Linked DNA regions of Homo sapiens. The protein of the gene in region 1 interacts with the protein of each later gene in a pairwise test. Each region holds a gene or a part of one and is shown in the gene's direction. Other genes may lie near its edges.

Region 1 (7,887 bases):
AGATGGGCGGATCACCTGAGGCTGGGAGTTCGAGACCAGCATGACCAACATGGAGAAACCCCGTCTCTTACTAAAAATACAAAACTAGCCGGGCATGGTAGCAGGTGCCTGTAATCCCAGCTACTGAGGAGGCTGAGGCAGGCGAATCACTTGAACCCAGGAGGCAGAGGTTGCAAGAGCTGAGATCGTGCCATTGCATTCCAGCCTGGCAACGGAGCGAGACTCCATCTCAAAAAAAAAAGAAAAAAAAAAAGTTGAGAGGTGGGTGTCACAGAGGAGGACCACTGCCCCTCACAGTGTACAATATCTGAGTCCATTTGAGAGCTCACAGCTCAGAAACACAAGGCTCTCAGTCCATGCAGAGTTGATCTTGGTGGGGGGTGGGAGGGAGGGGACACTCATTCACATTCAACAGAGTCACAGCCAATGTGTAAACAACCAGAAGGCCAGTTTACCAATCTACCTTTCCAGCAGCTATTCCTGTCATCAGGGCATGCACTGAGGTGTGCAATTCATGCACTCATTCAGCAAGGTTTTGACAAGCACCAAGTGTCCATTAGTGCACGGACTGTGAGCACCTGACTGGGGAAAATAATGCAGCCAAATGAGGTGGAGATCCAGAAACGGGAAGTGGAATTGTGCAATGAGCTTGGCGTCACACAAGCTGGAGTTCAAACGCTGTCCATCATTTATTAGGGAGGCGACTTTGGGGAAAATTGCTTAACCTTCCTGAGTCTCTTTCCTCACCTGTAAAATGGGTATAACAACATCTCCTTACATGATTATTAAAGAATGGGATTACATATGTAAAATGCCTAGTTTTGTTTGTTTTTGTATTTATCTGGAGAGGCCATGCCACATAATTTTTAAGGGAACAGGCTTTGGGATCAGACAGAGCTGTCTTTAAATCCTAGCTCTGCCACTTACTAGGTACATGATTTGGGTAAGTTGCTTAATTTTTTTCCACTAAGCCTTGGTTCGCTCATTTGTAAAATGGAAATACGAATTCCTCATAGGGCCTGGGAAATAAGATAATGTATTCCAAGAACTTAGAAAACTCCTAGGATATGATAAGCATTTAACAAATGGTATGATTAAGAGTAATTTTTAGGTGCCAATATCCAGAATAAACAAGGAACTCAAACAACTCAGTGACAAAAAATAAATAAATCTGATTTTTAAATAGACAAACGATCTCAATAGATATTTCTCCAAGAAAGACATACAAGTGGCCAACACATGTATGAAAAAATGCTCAATGTCACTAATCAACAGGGAAACGCAAATCAAAACCACAAAGACAAAAAATAGCAAATGCTGGCAAGGGTGCAGAGAAAAGGGAACTCTGATGCACTGTGGGTGGGAAGGTAAATTAGTACAGCCATTAGGGAAAACAGCATGGAGGTTTCTCAAAAAACTAAAAATAGATCTTCCATATGATCCAGCAATCCCACTACTAGGTATTTATCCAAAGGAAATCAAATCAATATTATCAAAGAGATATCTGCACCCCCATGTTTATTGCAGCGCCAGTCACAATAGCAAAAGATATGGAATCAACTTAAGCGTCCACCAACAAATGAATGGACAGGCTGGTTGCAGTGGCTCATGCCTGTAATCCCAGCACTTCAGGATGCCGAGGTGGGAGGACTGCTTGAGGCCAGGAGTTCGAGACCAGCCTAGGCAACATAGTGAGCCCCCCCCCCACCCCTCCCGCGCCATCTTATTATTTAAAAAAAAAAAAAAAGGATAAAGAAAATGTGTTATAGGCTGGGCGTGGTGGCTCACGCCTGTACTCCCAGGACTTTGGGAGGCCAAGGCAGGTGGATCACACAGGAGTTCAAGACAGACCAGCCTGTCCAATACAGTGAAACCCTGTCTCTACTAAAAAAAAAAAAAAAAAATTAGCCGGGCTTGATGGCACGCACCTGTTGTCCCAGCCACTTGGGAGGCTGAGGCAGGAGAATCGCCTGAACCTGGGAGCCGGAGGTTGCAGTGAACTGAGATCAGACCACTTGCACTCCAGCCTGGGTGATACAGTGAGACTCCGTCTCAAAAAAAAAAAGTTTTACATATACTGGAACACTATTCAGTCATAAAAAAATAATGAAATCCTTTTATCTGAAGCAACATGGCTGAGACTGGAGGACAGTATCATATTAAGTGAAATAAGTCAGGCACAGAAAGATAAATACCACATATTCTCATTCATATGTGGGAGCTAAAAAAAAATTCGAGTTCATGGAAGTAGAGACTTGAATTGTGGTTTATTAGAAGCTGGGAAGGCTAGTGGGAGGAGAGGAGAGGGAGAGGTTGATACAAAATTGCAGCTCAATAAGTTCTAGTGCTCTGTAGTATTTCAAGGTAAATATACTTAACAACAATCTATTGTATATTTTCAAAAAGCTAGAAGAGAGAATTCTGAATGTTCCCAACACAAAGAAATGATAAACATCTGAGGTGATGGATATGCTGATTACTGTGCTTTGATCATTACACGTTGTATACATGTACTGAAATATCACTTTGTATCCCACAAATGTGTTATTATGTATTAACTAAAAATAAAAGGGAGAAAAAGAACACAAAAGTATTTTTTTAAGTTGTCCATGGTTGCATACAAATGAGTGGTACACATATTAAAAAGCAGTTAAAATTATTACAAACTTCAACGAAATTAAAAATTGTGCCACTAAACATACAAAAAAGCTAATTACTTCGTGTTTCATTAAAACTTTTCTGAAAAGGCAGGCCTCTCACCTCAGACTAGTTTCATGCCTATACTTTCCAACAGAGTTTCTAAAATAACATCATTTTTGTGCTGCCAAGCAAAAAGTCAGATCTGTTTCAATACTGCTAAGTCATGCTCCACAGTGAAACAGCAGCAGCATGTCTGGGATCCCCTTTTCTAGTTTGTCTGATGGGAACCCTGGTACTCACAAGGCACTGTGCACTTGGCTTAACAACTATACACCAAGGTACACACTGCGGGATTATAAAAGTCCCTGCCCTAAAGGACACAAATCACCTCTCAATTCTGGATTGTGCCTTTATTTCTTCCTACCAACACTGCCAATTTTTAAGTTGTTTATAAAGCTTTTAGTTATGGAAGCACGATCTTGGATTTTGATATAAAAATCAACATAGCTGCCAATTCTAACCTCAGTGCAAATGCAACTGGTCCAAAACAAAGGGCAGCCCCTTATCTACCTCATCCTGTCCTCAGCAACATTTCTCTTTTCCAGATCGGGAAACCTGCACGGCCGCTCAGGACTTCTCGATGACTGCACCTTAGAGACCAGAGTGCAGGTTAGCGGGGCTCTCGCTCCATCAGTCAAGTGAGGTCTTCAAACTTCAGGGTGAACTATGGATGTGTTTTTAAGACTCAAGTTTTCACAAAAAAAATCCAAGTTTCAGAAAGAATGGGAGAGTTTCAACAGAACTAAAATATGAGAGCCTCTCTCTAAATAATAAAAATTTTCTTTTTTTTTTTTTTTGGAGACAGTCTCGCTCTGTTGTCCAGGCTGGAGTGCAGTGGTGTGATCTCGGCTCACTGTAACCTGTGCCTCCCGGGTTCAAGGATTCTCCTGCCTCAGCCTCCCGAGTAGCTGGGATTACAAGCGAGCCACCACGCCCAGCTAATTTTTTGTATTTTTAGTAGAGACAGGGTTCCACCATATTGGCCAGGCTGGTCTCAAATTCCCGACCTCAGGTGATCCGCCCACCTCAGCCTCCCAAAGTGCTGGGATTACAGACGTGAGCCACCGCGACCGGCCTAAATAATAGTAATTTTCAACGGAATACATTGGAATCTCATTATAAATGCCTGCTCTGGGCTACGATTTGCTTATCAAAGAATTCACAAGTCATAAACTAGAGGGGGTGGACTCGACGTGATGCCCACTAGGAGAAAGGTGACAAGAGAAGCACGAAGGATAGCGCTTTTCAACCCTGGGAGAGCAGGGAGGCCTTCACCAGAAGGTGGGAACCCACCACGAAGCGCCTTCAGGAGGCCCCAGGATTCCAAACCAATTAAGGGCCTCCTCTTCCGAAAACGGGAGGCGACGCGCTGAGCTAAGCGCGCAGGCTGGGTTGCGGGCCGACACCGAGGCGGCGCGGCCTCGCGACCGCCCTGGGCGGTCACTGGCGAGTCACGGACTCGTTCCGCCAGCGGCCAATCCACCCCGAGTCCGAAACAGAAGACGTCCCTGGGATGAAAGACCCAGGCCTGGGGCTTAAGGTGGAAAAACAACTCATTCCTCGAGGCCCGGAGTCGGGCGTCCCGGGAGAACGGGAAAGGGAGATGAGCGCCCGCTGCGGGGAGAACGCGGTCGGGTTCCTCTCCCCGAAGGTGGCAGCCGCAAAAACACGGCCTCGAAAGCAGTTTCGAGGACGATGGCTCCTGCGTCCCGGGAGTCGCCATGACGCCGCGGCCTGTCCCAGACCCGGCGAGGGAGGGGACCAACCACCATCTCCCCCTCAAGGCCCAAACCGACAAAGAACGGCCCCCGGTACCCCGGCCCCGCCACCAGGGCCACTCCGGGTCTCGCGAGACCCAAGGGCTGCGCCGCGAAGACCTCTGGGAAAGGCGGGGGGAGGGGAGAGGAAGGAAGCGAGACCGGGGCTGGAGGCGGGCCGAGGCCGCGAGTTGAGCCTCAGGAAGCAGAAGGGGCGCGGAAAGATGCGATTGACGTCGCAAGCGAACCAATGACGAGCGAGCTGTGGCAGGCCTCCAGCCAATGGGCAGTGAGGCCTGACGCGGGGGGCGGACGCTGGGGCCGAGGGTAGCTTGAGCGCGGCGGCGGCGTTGTTCAGTCAGAGCGAGAACATTCCAGAGGTGAGTCCGGTGAAGGGGCGGCCCCCTGCCCGGTGCTTCCCGCCCCCTCGACCCCTCGGGCCGCTGGCTGGCGGGGAAGGTGCACTCCCCGACCGCCCACGGCTCACGGCGCCGTCTCTCCGCGCCAGGTCGCCCAGCTCCGGCGCTGACGGGTGTGGACCGCGGACGTCGCTGGGACAGCCCCTCCCCGCTGCTCGGCGGCGGCACCTGGCCCGGCCGCTCCTCGCTGCGCTTCGCCTCCGCCTCCTCGGACTCGGACTCGGGTTTATATCGCGCCTCACTTCATCCCAGTCCCGGGCGAGCAGCGTTGGGTTTATGTCTTTATTTGACGAAAACGGTGAGTCGCGGGCGCGGCGGGCCAGGAGATGGCGGCCGCACAAGATGGCGGCGGCCGCCGCGTGACCCCGCCGCGGCGTGTGGCGCAGTTTGGGCGGACGGCGGGCGGGCGCGGGCCCGGGCGCCGGCCGCCCCCTCCCCGCGCGCTCCCCGGCCCGGCCTCGCCCCCTCCCCGGCATGGCGGGAGCGCGTCGCGCGTGCCCGCCGCTCGGGCTGACTCAGGCTTCAGCTGCTGCATTTGTGAGTCATCGCGCGCTCTGGGGCGGGGGCGGCCCGATCCCGGCACCCCTCGGCCGTGTGTCGCTTCCCGGCTGTGCACCCTCCGGGGCCGCCGGCTCTCGGGGGACGCGCTGGGGATGGGGCCAGACGCCCCGGTCGCGCGCCCCCCTCCTTCGCGGAGCTGCCCGGTTCGCCAGCCCCCGCGGAAACGCCTCGGAGCGCGGTAGCCATGGGGACCAGGGCGAAGGTTAACCGAGTATTTGAATAGCGAGGAAAAGGGAGGCCGGGGCGAGCCTGGCGTTCGCTCGCGCTCTCTTGCTTAATGGCAAATTGTGGGCGAGCGCTGCGTTTAAGGAAGTGCTGCTTTGAAGTAAGCCATGGTTGCCGAAGCAACGATTAGTTGTAGAGAACAGTTCCCTAGGTTGCCCTTAAAAATGAAGACGAACGGGGGTGTGCCTGAGAAGTTTGCTTATCCAGGCGGGGTGGGCGGCGGAGAGGGCTCGGGTTCGTTCTTCAGCACTTCCAGGATGGCCGCAGAGGCAAACCTGCTGATTGCCCTCGGTCTGATGGAATCTCACGGCGGCTGAGGCAGCACAGCTTGTGTTTTCTTGTCAGGCATTTCCCTACCAGTCACAGCTTAGTCGAAATGGAGGCCTTTTTATGTTCCCGCAGATTGTACTGTGTTACATGAGAATGGCTGTTTGCATGTGATCTCAGATGCTTTTTAAGGTGGAGTTAAGCAGAAGCATAACTAGGATGTAAAAAGGAGGCGTTTCCATCCAGCGATGATGTTAAACCTGGGGGGATTTTTGTGTGTTCTTTCCCTTTTTCTTTCAGAGCTGTTGCGCAGCCATTGGTACCTGTATTGGGGAAACATAGCATACAAGCAAGAAGCTTACAGCCTCAGTGGCGAAAATTTTTTCATGTCAGAGACCGAGAACTCTTGCAGTCGTTTATGTCATCCCTTCTTCTCCAGACAGAAGATACCAAAAAGTTGCAATCAAAGATCTCTTCATCTTATTGATAAAGCCACTAATAAGCCAAAATGTCTGTCAATGTCAACCGCAGCGTGTCAGACCAGTTCTATCGCTACAAGATGCCCCGTCTGATTGCCAAGGTAATAAACTGCTCTTCAATTTAGTTGATAGCTCTTTTTGTAGAATTTTGAAGTTTGCATTTGTCAGGGGAAACTGCACAACTAAAATTCTTATTTCCTTTAGGTTGAGGGCAAAGGCAATGGAATCAAGACAGTTATAGTCAACATGGTTGACGTTGCAAAGGCGCTTAATCGGCCTCCAACGTGTAAGTAAAGCTTGGAAAAGTCCACAGGGCATATTATGGATAGAGTCTTCAAAGTCTTTGAGCTGCAAAACTTGTTCTAATTGTATGCTAGCTAATTACCTTACAAGTTAAGTGAGGAACCGTGGTTTATTGGTTGCCATGAGTTTACAAAACTACCAGGGGAACGCATTTAAAGAGTGGATGGCTGGGCGCGTTGGCTCACACCTGTAACCCCCAGCACTTTGGAAGGCTGAGGCAAGCGGATCGCGAGGTCAGGAGTTCTAGACCAGCCTAGCCAACATAGTGAAATCCTGAGTCTACTACTAATACAAAAATTAGCCAGGCGTGGTGGCATGCGCTTGTAGTCCCAGCTACTTGGGAGGCTGAAGGGGGAGAATCGCTTGAACCCCGGAAACGGAGGTTGCAGTGAGCTGAGACCACGCCGTTGCACTCCAGCCTGGGTGACAGAGTGAGACTCTTGTCTCAAAAAAAAAAAAAAAGTGGTGTTCGTACAAATGTGAGTGAGTAGCCAGAGATCTAGTTAACTGTAACGATCCAAACTCCTTTTTCATTCAAATAGATCCCACCAAATATTTTGGTTGTGAGCTGGGAGCACAGACCCAGTTTGATGTTAAGAATGACCGTTACATTGTCAATGGATCTCATGAGGCGAATAAGCTGCAAGACATGTTGGATGGATTCATTAAAAAATTTGTTCTCTGTCCTGAATGTGAGAATCCTGAAACAGATTTGGTAAGTGCTTTTGTGGTTGTCGAAAGAAAAAGCCATATACCTGCTTCTGTGATACCGCTAAGTCACCTTCCTGAGAAGGCAGAGCAAATGTAATTTTAAATCAAACACAAAACTCCAGTTTTCGAGATATTTCCATTCTTTTTTTTAAAGTAGGTCACTGTGTGAAAAAAGTTTTCTTTGCATGTGAAGCTGTCTGTGGTTTAGATGTCCTCTGATTAGATATTTTCATGTTATATTATGGATAACATTTGTTATTTTTTTGGCAGCATGTCAATCCAAAGAAGCAAACAATAGGTAATTCTTGTAAAGCCTGTGGCTATCGAGGCATGCTTGACACACATCATAAACTCTGCACATTCATTCTCAAAAACCCACCTGGTGAGTCTTCCATGATGAACTCCTAAGATCCTAAGATAAGTTACTAACTGTTGGGAACAAAATAGAAGGTTTTTTTGTAATAG
Region 2 (7,118 bases), on another chromosome or scaffold:
TCAGTGCGCATATGGGTTAAACACGAAGTGCAAGTCAGCCGGGCATGGTGGCACATGCCTGTAGTCTCAGCTACTTGGGAGGCCAAGACGGGAGGATTGCTTGAGTCCAAGAGTTCAAGGATGCAGTGACCTATGATCATGCCACTATACTCGAGCCTGAGTGACAAAGTGAGACCTTGTCTCAAAAAAAATTAAAAAAAAAAAAAAAAAAAAACCATGAAGCAAGGGCAAGTAATTAGGTACAGTTACTGATTTTGTTTGTTTGTTTTGAAATGGAGTCTCACTCTTTTGCCCAGGCTGGAGTGCAGTGGTGCAGTCTTGGCTCACTGCAACCTCTGCCTCCCAGGTTCAAGCGATTCTCAGCCTCCAAAGCAGCTGAGATTACAGGCATGCACCACCATGCCCGGCTAATTTTGTAGTTTTAGTAGAGACGGGGTTTCACCATGTTGGTCAGGCTAGTCTCAAACTCCTGACCTCAGATGATCCACCCACCTCTGCCTACCAAAGTGCTCGGATTTCAGGCGTGAACCACCATGCCCGGCCTCATTACTGATTTTTATTAAAAAGTTATATTTCCATTTTATCGTTGTATAATAGTATCCCATAGGATTTTTTAAAAGCAACATTTCTTGGTTTTCACCCTTCCAAATACAAAAGTAATGAATTCTTAACGCAGAAAACCTAAAAATAAGTCCCTTATAACCTCATCAAAGGGGAAATGTACTTGACATACTGTTCTGTAGGCCTGCATTTTCACTTGGCAGTTATTATTTTTGGCTCTGTTGTATCTTAAGAAAAAACATAATTTTGTTATATTTTACTTAAGCATGAAAGTCCTGCTGAAATTACTTAGCATTTCTGATCTAAGAAATGTTAATGTATATAGGAATAGGACTAGCGCTTCCTGGTTCATTTTCATTGCTTAGGGGTAATCATGATTTGACCAGATCTTTCTGATTGATGAGTCTATCTGATGATTAGTGAACCAGCTATTCTTAAGGAAATACGTTGTTACCATATTTCCTTGTATGTTGAGAAGTATACCTGAAAGTTATAATAGCTTCAGAATTAGTGTAATTAGGGCCTTCCTTACTAAAAATACCTTTGCAAACAAAAGAAAATGGTAACACAGATACTCCCATCTTGACTTAGCAGTGACACTGCAGGAATTTTTTTTCATAAAATATTCTTTATAGTTATTGTCTTATATAAAAGGAATGCTCTTATGATGAAACTTTGAGTAAATTACAGTGCTGACTTATGAGTATTTCTTACTGTGTCCTTAGCTAAAATCAATGAAACTGATACATTTGGTCCTGGAGATGATGATGAAATTCAGTTTGATGACATTGGAGATGATGATGAAGATATTGATGACGTAAGTAGATGTACCTTGTGTTTTCCAATTTTTGTTATTATCCATGGAGAAACCAACTTTCCCCTAACATCCATTAATTTTAAGAACATGGGACACTTAAATAAGGTTGTATTTTGAGAATTGTCTGAATTAAATAATATTATTTAGAAGACACCTGGTCAAACTGTTTATATTTTGAGAATTCTTTTTTTTTTTTTTTTTTTTTTTTTTTTTGTGATGGAGTTTTGTTCTGTCACCCAGGCTGGAGTGCAGTGGTACAATCTCAGCTCACTGCAATCTCTGCCTCCTGGGTTCAAGCGATTCTCCTGCCTCAGCCTCCTGAATAGCTGGGACTACAGGCGCGTGCCACCACGCCTGGCTAATTTTTTGTATTTTTAGTAGAGACGAGGTTTCACCACGTTGGCCAGGCTGGTCTCGAACTCCTGACCTCCGGTGATCTGCCCTCCTCGGCCTCCCAAAGTGCTGGGGTTGCAGGCGTGAGCCACCATGCCCGGCCCTATTTTGAGAATTCTTATAACCCTCTTCAATTTCTCTTCCTGAAAAGGTCAGTGTTTGCATTGGCAATATTAACGCCAGCCACTCTAATCATAACTTGTTTAATTAAGAGTCTCTAAAGAGATAGCCATTAAGAAATTTAGTGGACAGTTGAAAAATAGATCTTATCAAAGGAACATGCCTTTTTAATTGAAATATTAGTGTGTTGAAAGAATCTTGTTTGAACCAGCTTGATATGAAGCATTGGAATTACAACATACACTGAAAGCCTTGTCAAAATGGAAGCCTATTGCCAATTATGGTATTTTTAGCTGTTGGGTGTGTACTGTTGGCAAACTCTTGGTTTGCAGTTGGTATGTTTATTTTGAGGAAAATGGATTGTCTTTCCTAATAATAAAGTAGTAATGCCCATAAGTGTAAATGCTTTACTGCACTTCTGCTGTTACTGTAATTGAATGAAATTCAAACTTAATCTTTTGGCAGTATAAATTTATTTAGTGATTAGGGTGTTACTCTTAAATCTGTTTTGGGCTCTTCTTTTCAAACCTCTTTTAACTAAAATGTAGTTCAGAAACCACCTGTGTATTTCAACCCAAAAACAATAATAAGTCAGATGTGGTGGTATGCACCCATAGTCCCAGCTACTCAGGAGACTGATAGGGGAGGATCACCTGAGCCCAGGAGTTCAAGACCAGCCTGGGTAACATAGCCAGACTTTGTCTCTACATAAATAACATAATAACGTTAAATTTGATGCAAAGATGGAATTTCGGAATACCTAGAGCAGTTGTTCCTGACCAAGAATACTCACACTGTGAGTTAAATTACTAATATTATAGACATTTTAACATGTACACAAAAATAGGAAGTGAGAAATAAACATGTTGTTCTGTTATTTTCTTAATTTTGGAGACCCTGAGCCAAGAGGAGTCTTACGACTAAACTGTTACTAATATTTTGACAATAGAATTAACAATTCTATTCTTTGGTAAATAAGAGCTTGCAGCTGACATGTGGATTAAGCGCCAACCCAAACATTTTGACATCTGAGCAGGGGTAGAAGGCCTCTTTAAAAAAAAAAAAAAATTAAGGAACCTAACCAGAGAACATGCATGGATATGAAGCCGCATGCACCAAGATAATGGGTTGAGAATCTAGGCGTGGTCAAGATTTTCTCAGTAAAAATTTCTGGATCTGGGCCAACGCCTCCTCAGAACTGGACCCAGCTGGCTGGCTGGAAAAGGGATGGTAAAGAGTGATTATTAAAGGAGTTCTCTTGAACATTTTGTAAAAGTTGGCTCTGTCACCTGAGAACCCTACTCTTTGAGACATTTCTCCAGGTGGTTTATAGATGTTTTAACTATAACCAGATTGACTCAGGAGAATTAGGTCAGTATCACACTGAACGGGATCAATCATATCATGCTTCCTGTGTCTGCTCCCATCCATGAGATACAAAAATCTCAAATTACAAGCATTAAAGGAAGGAGACAGTAAATTTTATTAAGAATATTTTGCATAACATGTAACATTACAAAGGAGATCATCACGATTTACTTATAGCAGGCCAGAATTATAGGAATTTCTTCTTCAAACTGGATTTGTTTCTCACATAGCCTAAGGAGGTGAAAGTCTCCCTTATATATGGAGTAGACTGTTGGAATATAAGAATTCTTTTTCCTTTCATCTGATGTTCTTTTCCCTTCCAGATCTAAATTGAACTCAACATTTTACATTCCATCTTTTCTGAAGATTGTCCTACAATTTGGATTTTGATCATGACAAAGAAGATTAAAATTTCATTAGCATGAATGCAATTTGTTAAAGCAGACTGATTTGTTTCTAAGATATTTTTGGTTTTTTTAAAACTGATAATAATGCTGAATTATCTTAAGTGAGATGTTAAGCCCACTTTGTTCTTTTAATGTAATGGAGCTTATGGGTAGAAGACCATGTCTACTAATTACAAAAAAAAAAAAAAACCATGCATTGCTGCTTTTCCTACCACTTCCAGTAAGAAAATGGGTGTTTTGAAGAAATCATTTGCCTTGTCCTCACGGAATCTGATTAAGCCCTGGCCTCTTGATTGTATAGAGTCATTGTGTATATTCCAGTTACCTAGATATTCCCTTGAGATTTTGATACAATTTGAGGGAGGCAGAAGTCTGCAGTTGAAGAAAAAAAATAAGTCTGTTTGTCATATTTAAGTAGCCTGTGGCTATTTTTATACTGATTTTGATATCATGTTCTTTTCATAGTCGTATTTTGCCACCGTAAACATAAAAAAAAAAAAAAAGATTTCCAAAATGCCGTTTTCAGAACCTGGGTTTTAATAGCAGTATTGAATTTGTAAGCTTAGTAGTTGCAGAAATTGAACACTAGGTGGCACTCAGTTATCTTAACAGGGGAAGTACTGATACAATTGTTGACTTTTCTTTTACTATGTGTAAGAAATACCCCAAACATGAAAAGATTGTTTTGATCATATGCATGTATGTAGAATATTTTTGCAGAGCAGAAAGATTATGTTAGAAGTGTGATTTTTATTTTCAGAAGTCATATACATGTAAGCTACAATTTTGAGTGCTTTATAAACACTTAAGATATATATATAAATTTTAATTTCATAGCAACTTGTAAAAAATAAAATACTTGTTGAAAAGCCTTTTTCAACATATCCCTAAGCTAAGGGAAGAGGAAGGAATAACAACTCAGTGAAAAGATGGTCTCCAGTTTCTGAATGAAAAAGCTACAGCTGAGAAATAAAATAAAATGTCATGCTGCAGAATATGTTATACCCTTATTTTGTGTTAAGGATATATTTTATTATGTGAATGGTTTTGTTTTTGTTTTTTGTTTTTGTTTTTTGCTTGTATTGGGAATTAGCTTTACTGGTAACTTCCTTATTTAGTTTTTAGTGGTCAACTCTAATAAAATGAAACTAGGGCTGAGCTAGTTAGCCCTCACTAGCCAAACTGAAACTCTATGCAACATTAAAAGAAGAGATCCATCATGTAGCTTGTGACACTTTTATTTTATTAGTCACCGGGGAACTTTTCAGTGATGAAAATACACAGGGTAATAAACCTTCACATGGCTTCAAAAGGAAAACAAGCAAATCTTCTCTAATCTACTCTTACTATAATTTCCTAAGTGTACACCAAACTCTGGATTTAAAAATCTGAAGTACTATAGAACATTAAGTTGAAGAATGGAAATTAAGAGTACGTATTCATGGTTTATATTTCTTATTCTATGGAGTTCGTGAACACATCTAGGTGGAATGCATCTGAGACTAAGGGCTGGTTTTTAATCCTCATAAGAAACCAGCCTTGAAGAATTAACAATTCTCTTCATTGGTATTCTAAACCTCCTAAGATATTTAGGCTTCTGTACATAAAAGTGTTTTTGCTAAATTTACAGTATATATAGATCCTTTCATATTATTTTACTAAGAATGTTTGAACTTTGCATATTTGATATAGTTCCTGGTAGGAATAGCACAGCTCAAACATTAGTTTTTCTACTTACCTCCTCTAACACGTGGTTTGTCTGGAGAGTTTCTAAAAATTCAGCTATAACCCCAGTTCATGTATTTACTGGTGATTGTTCTTGCTGAGGTAGTAACAGCCCAATCTTGGGCTGTTAAATCCTAGGAAATCTCGAATCATAGTGATTAAAATAGTTGGGGTAAAGTTGTAGCTTATATGCAATACTACTTGGAGGAATTCTTCTACTAATTTGTATTTAATGTGGAAATTGTATAGTTTCATTGATTTAATCATAAATAATGGAAATGGTCTCCAAGAAGTTTTATTTTTCATTTTTTTGCTTATACACTCTGATTCCTATAATACAGTGCTATAAGCTATGCACAGAAAATAAAATGTTTGAAATCCAAGAATAATGGTTCTTACTGCTAAGAGGGAGTAATAGTTATTACTAATGATTTTGATTGGGTTGCATTTTTGTTGCAATGTTTATTCCACTTGCAGTTAGAATATGAATATGTTTTATCACTAGTGTGGCTAAATAACCAAACATTTGTGTAAAAAAAAAAAAAAGCCAAGATTTCATTGTTTGTTGAATATTTCTTAAGCATCTGGCCCCTAAAGAGACCGCTTCTTACCAAGCCTGTAAACTATGCATGATGGAAATTCTTGTATTTTATTTAGGAATGGCTGTTGGTTTACTCACCACATCTGTGGAATCATGGCTATAAATGTTTGCTTACAAACTCTTTGTGACTTGTAATTTAACTTAATCTCATCTAATGTAAATATTAGATTATGATGTTCAGTAACATCTTCCATAGGTATAAACTGCTGTCATTATTGATTTCAGAGTAACTCTGAGTAATCAAATAGGTAAAAGCATGTTTTGAGTAAAATAGCTAGATTTATACTTTACTTGTATACAGACTTAACAACAACCGGTATTGACTGGATTGACAGCTAAAGTATCAGAATGAAAGCAAGGTTTTTTTGATGTTACCTGACTGTCATAAAGATGAAAATGATTTGTATTGGTATGAAATGCTTATCTTTATTCTACTTCGTAAGGGTAAGTTTTATTTATACTCTTTGGACTCCCATGAACTTTTGCACACTGCTTTGTGTTTTTGGTTTACCCTAAACTACCATCCTTTTTATCTTTGCTTTTTTTCTTCCTATTCAGAAAAGAGCAAAATGTGAAAAGACACAAGACTCTCAGGTATAGAATGAACTGAGCAATTTGGAGAATGTATTGGACTTTGTCCTCTCTTATTCCCCCCTCCTAGCCCTGCAAGTTGCTAGGTACTTGTGAGGCAGTGTACTGGAGAGGGGAGAGCATGGATCCTGGGGTCAAAGGGCCTTTGCCCCCACCCTTACTTGGCCCTCTACCTGCAGGTGACCACTGGCACATTCTCCTGCTTGTCTCAGCTTCAGGTTCTTCACCTCTAAGATGGGGATGATGAAAACAGTACCTGTCATGCAGAATTGTTGGGAGGATTGATAATTTAGATGTTTATACATGTAATGTACTTAGATCAGTGTCTGCTCTTTTCACTTGATATCCAGTACTATGTAAGATAGAAGGTGCATGTCTTCTGTATTCTGTATTTCCCATTTCTTTTGCGTGCAGTCTTTGATTCGTACAATAGAAGGAACACGTAGAATGTATATTTGTACATTCATGTCAACATAGTATTTGAAATTGCTACCAAACTCATTTAATTTGGCATAAGACTAACAGATGAAGTCTC
Region 3 (5,071 bases), on another chromosome or scaffold:
GCTGGGCGCAGTGGCTCACGCCTGTAACCCCAGCACTTTGGGAGGCCGAGGCAGGCAGATCACCTGAGATTGGGAATTTGAGACCAGCCTGGCCAACATGGTGAAACCCCGTCTCTATTAAAAATACAAAAATTAGTTGGGCATGGTGGCTGGTGCCTGTAATCCCAGCTACTCAGGAGGCTGAGGCAGGAGAATTGGTTGAACCCAGGAGGCGGAGGTTGCAGTGAGCCATGATCACGCCACTGCACTCTAGCATGGGCGACAGAGTGAGACTCTGTCTCAAAAAAAAAAGAAATACCGCACATTTCATCCATGTTTTCATCCTTTTGGAAGTCATTAATGCTTTTGTTTGTTTGGGGGTTGCAGGCGATCATTATTTCGAAGTTCTAGTATTCTGGATCACCGTGAAGGAAGTGGACCTATAGCCTTTGCCCACAAGAGAATGACACCATCTTCCATGCTTACCACAGGGAGGCAAGCTCAATGTACATCTTATTTCATTGAACCTGTACAGTGGATGGAATCTGCTTTGTTGGGAGTGATGGATGGACAGGTGAGAACACATTTTATTTTCTACAATTTTATTTTATGATCTATATTTTATTCCTTCTTGCATTTTAAGCTCTATTTTAACTAGTGTTTTGCTCCATTTCTTAATTTCTTTATTTCTGAAGATTATATCTTTCTAGTGTAGATAAGACTATCAAAAATAAAATATTTTTCAAAAACCAGCTGATCCAACATAGTGAACTACTTCTGGTTGAGAGCCCTGGTCTAAGTTAATAAATTTCCTTTAAGGCTATTTATATTTTTTTCAAATATAAGACTAACATTTATTTTTAAACTAATTAGAATATATTGGCTGGGCACTCTTGCCTCATTAGCTCATGCCTGTAATCTGAGCACTTTGGGAGGCTGAGGCGGGAGGATCACTTGAGCCCAGGGTTTCGAGACCAGCTTGGGCAATATAGTGAGACCTCATCTCTATAAAAGAAAGTAAAAAATTTTTAATAAGAAAAAAAGAAAAGAAAAAATGTATTAAACAAAATTTGAACTTTGTAACAAGATAGGGTAAATCAGGGATTTTAAAATTAGGTTAAAAATTCTGTCTTTCTTTTTCTCTGTTGGCTTCCTGTATGTGTCTTTCTCTTTTTTCTTATCTTTTAGGAGAGTGAAATTTAGTTTGTTTTGCTATGAGATTCTTTTTCATTTCCAGTTAAATAATGCAGCTCATCCTATTGCTCCTGTAACCAGTGGGTAGGGAAATAAAAAAAGAATGCAGTTCATGTGACATTTTACATAAAAAAGTGTTTAACTTGGTTGGAGTGTGCCATGACAGCCACATTTCTCCTTTAGGTTTACTTGATATTAATGTGAAGGTATTCTATAATAATCATCTTAATAATGATTTTGAAAGTTTGTATGGTTTGTATAAAAGTTTGTATAGTGGCTAGTTTATGAAACCCTTTCACTGTATTATACCATTTGAAGAATGCCATAGCTTTATAAAATAGGTAGAGCAGTTATATTCACGTGTTGTGCATGAGGAAACTGTTTATGAGTAGTGTCTTGCCTAGAAAGTGGTACCATATAATCAAACTCACATTTTCGGATAATGCTGCTTTTTTTAAAAAAAACAGCCTTATTATAGTATAATTCACATAACATGCAATTTACCTATTTAAGGTGTATAGTTCAGTGGCTTTTAAAGTGTATTCACAGTGGTTTTTGCAACCATCGTGTATTAGTCTATTTTCACACTGCCATAAAGATAGTACGTGAGACTGGGTAATTTATAAAGGAAGGAGGTTTAATTGACTCATGGTTCTGCATGGTTGGGGAGGCCTCAGGAAACTTATTATCATGGCAGAAGGGAAAGCAGGCCACTTCTTCACAAGGCGGCAGGAGAGAGAAGCATATGTGAAGGAGGAACTGTCAAACACTTATAAAACCATCAGATCTTATGAGTGCTCATTCACTATCACGAGAACAGCATGGGGGTATCTGCCTCCATGATCCAATCACCTCTCTTCTTCCACACTTGGGGATTACAATTTGAGATGAGATTTGGATGGGGACACAGAACCAAACCGTATCACATCACAATTCACATTCCCACTCTTCCCATTCTTTTTTTTTGAGACGGAGTTTCACTCTTGTTGCCCAGGCTGGAGTACAATGGCACAATCTTGGCTCACCACAACCTCTGCCTCCCGGGTTCAAGTGATTCTCCTGCTTCAGCCTCCTGAGTAGCTGGGATTACAGGGATGCGCCACCACGCCTGGCTAATTTTGTATTTTTAGTAGAGACGGGGTTTTTCCATGTTGGTCAGGCTGGTCTCGAACTCCTGACCTCAGGTAATCCACCTGCCTCAGCCTCCCAAAGTGCTGGGATTACAGGCGTGAGCCACCATGCCCAGCTGCAATTCCCATTCTTGATGGTATTATTTGTAGCAGTTAGAGATTTTAATTTTGATGGTATCTAATTTATCAGTTTTTCTTTTTTGTGGCTTGTGATTCTGGCTTTCTAATTTTACTTAACCTGGGAAACACACACACACACTCCAGCCAAGTTAAATACATTTTTATGTAAGATTCTAAATCCTGTGCATACTTATTTGTATACATATTTGATTTTTTTCTGTAGAATATGTACCTAGAAGTGGAATTCCTGGCTCGAAGAATGTATTTTAAATATTAGTGATATTCCAGGCTGATATTCAAAATGCCCATACAAATTTGGTTTTCAGTAACTGAATGCATGTACCCGTTACTCCATATCCTTGACATAATAGATACTATAAAACTGGTAACATTTTGTCAGTCTGTGGGGTAAAAAATGTTAATCCTAAAATGTTTAATTGGAATTTTATGAAAATAGTCATCAACCACCATCTTTATATATTTACCAGCCATTTACTGTTTTCTTTTCTATAAATTGCTTTCATATTCCTAGGCCCATTTGCCTATGGGTTTTGTCTCTTTCTTACTCATTTGTAGGACCTCTATATATTCTAGATGTTAATAGTTCATCTAATATATTGCAACTATTTTCTTCAGTCTATTGCTTATCAGATTTTTTATGTTTTGTCATATTAAAATGAAGGATATTTACATAATAAAATTTGTTAGTTTTTTTATTTATGGCTTCTGAATTTCTTTTTTTTGAGACGGAGTCTTGCTCTGTTGCCCAGGCTGGAGTGCAGTGGTGTGATCTTGGCTCACTGCAACCTCCGCCTTCTGGGTTCAAATATTCTCCTGCTTCAGCCTCCCAGGTAGCTGTGATTACAGGCATCCGCCACCATGCCCAACTAATTTTTGTGTTTTTAGTAGAGACGGGGTTTCACCATGTTGACCAGGCTGGTCTCAAACTCCTGACCTCAGGTGATCTGCCCGCCTTGGCCTCCCAAAGTGCTGGGAATTACAGGTATGAGCCACCACACTCAGCCTGCTTCTGAGTTTTATGTCTAGTTTTCTATAGCTCAAGATTAAAAATAAAAACTCTTACCTTATACCATGCATAAATCAAAGAGCTAAACATAAAAATTAATGCTATAACTAACTACATTAGAAGAAAATGCAGTTGCCTTATTAGGCTTTTTTGATTTACCTATTTTCCTGGAATATCAGTTTGTCTTTAAATAGCTAAGAATCTGACTTATATGCTGTCAATACACACAGTTAGTAATACAGCATGAAAATCCTAACATGCTTTTCTATACTTTAGCCGTGATCATTTTCATTTGAAGTCCTAAATTACAAACTGATTTAAAAGCTATATATATATATATATATATATATATATATATATATGCCACATCCATGAAACCTTCCTTAATCAAATCTCAAGCTTCACTTTTCTCCCTTCAAGCTCCCTGAATACAACATTCTTCCTATGAGATAATTGTAGTCTACTATCTATTACAGTAAATTTCCAATGCATTTTATCTCACTGATTAGATTATAAACTCAACGTGGGGATCGTGTCTTGTTTTTATATCCTATATTGATTGCCAAAGATAATGATTTGTTTTGTATAAAAGTGAATGAATAAAGTAACACATTTGCTTTATTTCAGCTTCTTTGCCCAAAATGCAGTGCCAAGTTGGGTTCCTTCAACTGGTATGGTGAACAGTGCTCTTGTGGTAGGTGGATAACACCTGCTTTTCAAATACATAAGAATAGAGTGGATGAAATGAAAATATTGCCTGTTTTGGGATCACAAACAGGAAAAATATGAACATGATATTTTATAGCTTGGGAAGAAACTTGCAGATGATATGTGCTGCCTTTGCTTCTTATCATTCATGGCAGATTGTTTGTGCTTTCAACATTTCATTTGAAATGGGAGAAGATAAAATCACTTGATGTAACCTGGAAACTATGCTTTACATGGCAATCAAAGCCTTTTGATCATGTACATTTTATTTGATATTAAAATCTTTTATAACCAGATACTGTCTGTGTTTCATATATTTTTAAAAGTTTTGATTGTTGGAATGTTATATGATCTTAAGGTCTGTATAGACAAAATTATGTACAAAAATTTGAAACTATTATATTTAAATGGGTATTCTTTTATTTCCAGACACATAAAGCAGATTTGTTTGGACATATTTTGGAATTATTTCACTTTCTTTCTTTTAAGGGACATTAGTAAACCCATACATGTCTGGATTTTTTTCTTGGAAATGGAAAGGCCATTAGTAAAACGCTGATTAAAAGGCAATTTTCCTATTACTGTTCAGTAATCCCAATTATCTATATTTTTAGAAAAGTGTTTGAGATCCCTTTTGAAGTGATCTACATAAAGAAATACATAAATGTTAGATGTGTTTCTAATGATGAAGAAAACAAATGTAGAGTTACTATATATCAAGTCATTTTGTAGCCCAATATGTGAGTATTGGAAAAGGTAATACGTCCAGATTAGTTTTTTAACCTGATGTATAGAAACTAGAATTATTTTACTCATTATTAATAATTACAATTGGACCTAATTAGATATTTGAACATTTACAAGAATCAGAATTAACTAATAAAGGCCAGGTGCAGTGGCTTATGCCTATGAT

What was found.
Region 2: the proteins of EIF5 (region 1) and EIF1AX interact in a two-hybrid assay, tested with the Homo sapiens proteins (one study listed by IntAct).
Region 3: the proteins of EIF5 (region 1) and DUSP12 interact in binary tests that used the Homo sapiens proteins (3 or more experiments, as listed by UniProt).

The regions. Positions count from the first base shown.
Region 1 is NC_000014.9:103,329,424-103,337,310, forward strand, and holds the start of EIF5 (eukaryotic translation initiation factor 5), read left to right. Parts: upstream 1-4,813; 5' UTR 4,814-4,837; exon of another isoform or gene 4,838-4,965; 5' UTR 4,966-5,174; exon of another isoform or gene 5,175-5,237; intron 5,238-5,464; exon of another isoform or gene 5,465-5,762; intron 5,763-6,229; 5' UTR 6,230-6,437; coding exon 6,438-6,509; intron 6,510-6,612; coding exon 6,613-6,694; intron 6,695-7,253; coding exon 7,254-7,426; intron 7,427-7,692; coding exon 7,693-7,804; intron 7,805-7,887.
Region 2 is NC_000023.11:20,124,776-20,131,893, reverse strand, and holds part of EIF1AX (eukaryotic translation initiation factor 1A, X-chromosomal), read left to right. Parts: intron 1-1,286; coding exon 1,287-1,378; intron 1,379-3,582; coding exon 3,583-3,588; 3' UTR 3,589-7,118. UniProt on the Homo sapiens protein: Component of the 43S pre-initiation complex (43S PIC), which binds to the mRNA cap-proximal region, scans mRNA 5'-untranslated region, and locates the initiation codon. This protein enhances formation of the cap-proximal complex.
Region 3 is NC_000001.11:161,752,709-161,757,779, forward strand, and holds the end of DUSP12 (dual specificity protein phosphatase 12), read left to right. Parts: intron 1-366; coding exon 367-553; intron 554-4,077; coding exon 4,078-4,239; 3' UTR 4,240-4,530; downstream 4,531-5,071. UniProt on the Homo sapiens protein: Dual specificity phosphatase; can dephosphorylate both phosphotyrosine and phosphoserine or phosphothreonine residues. Can dephosphorylate glucokinase (in vitro).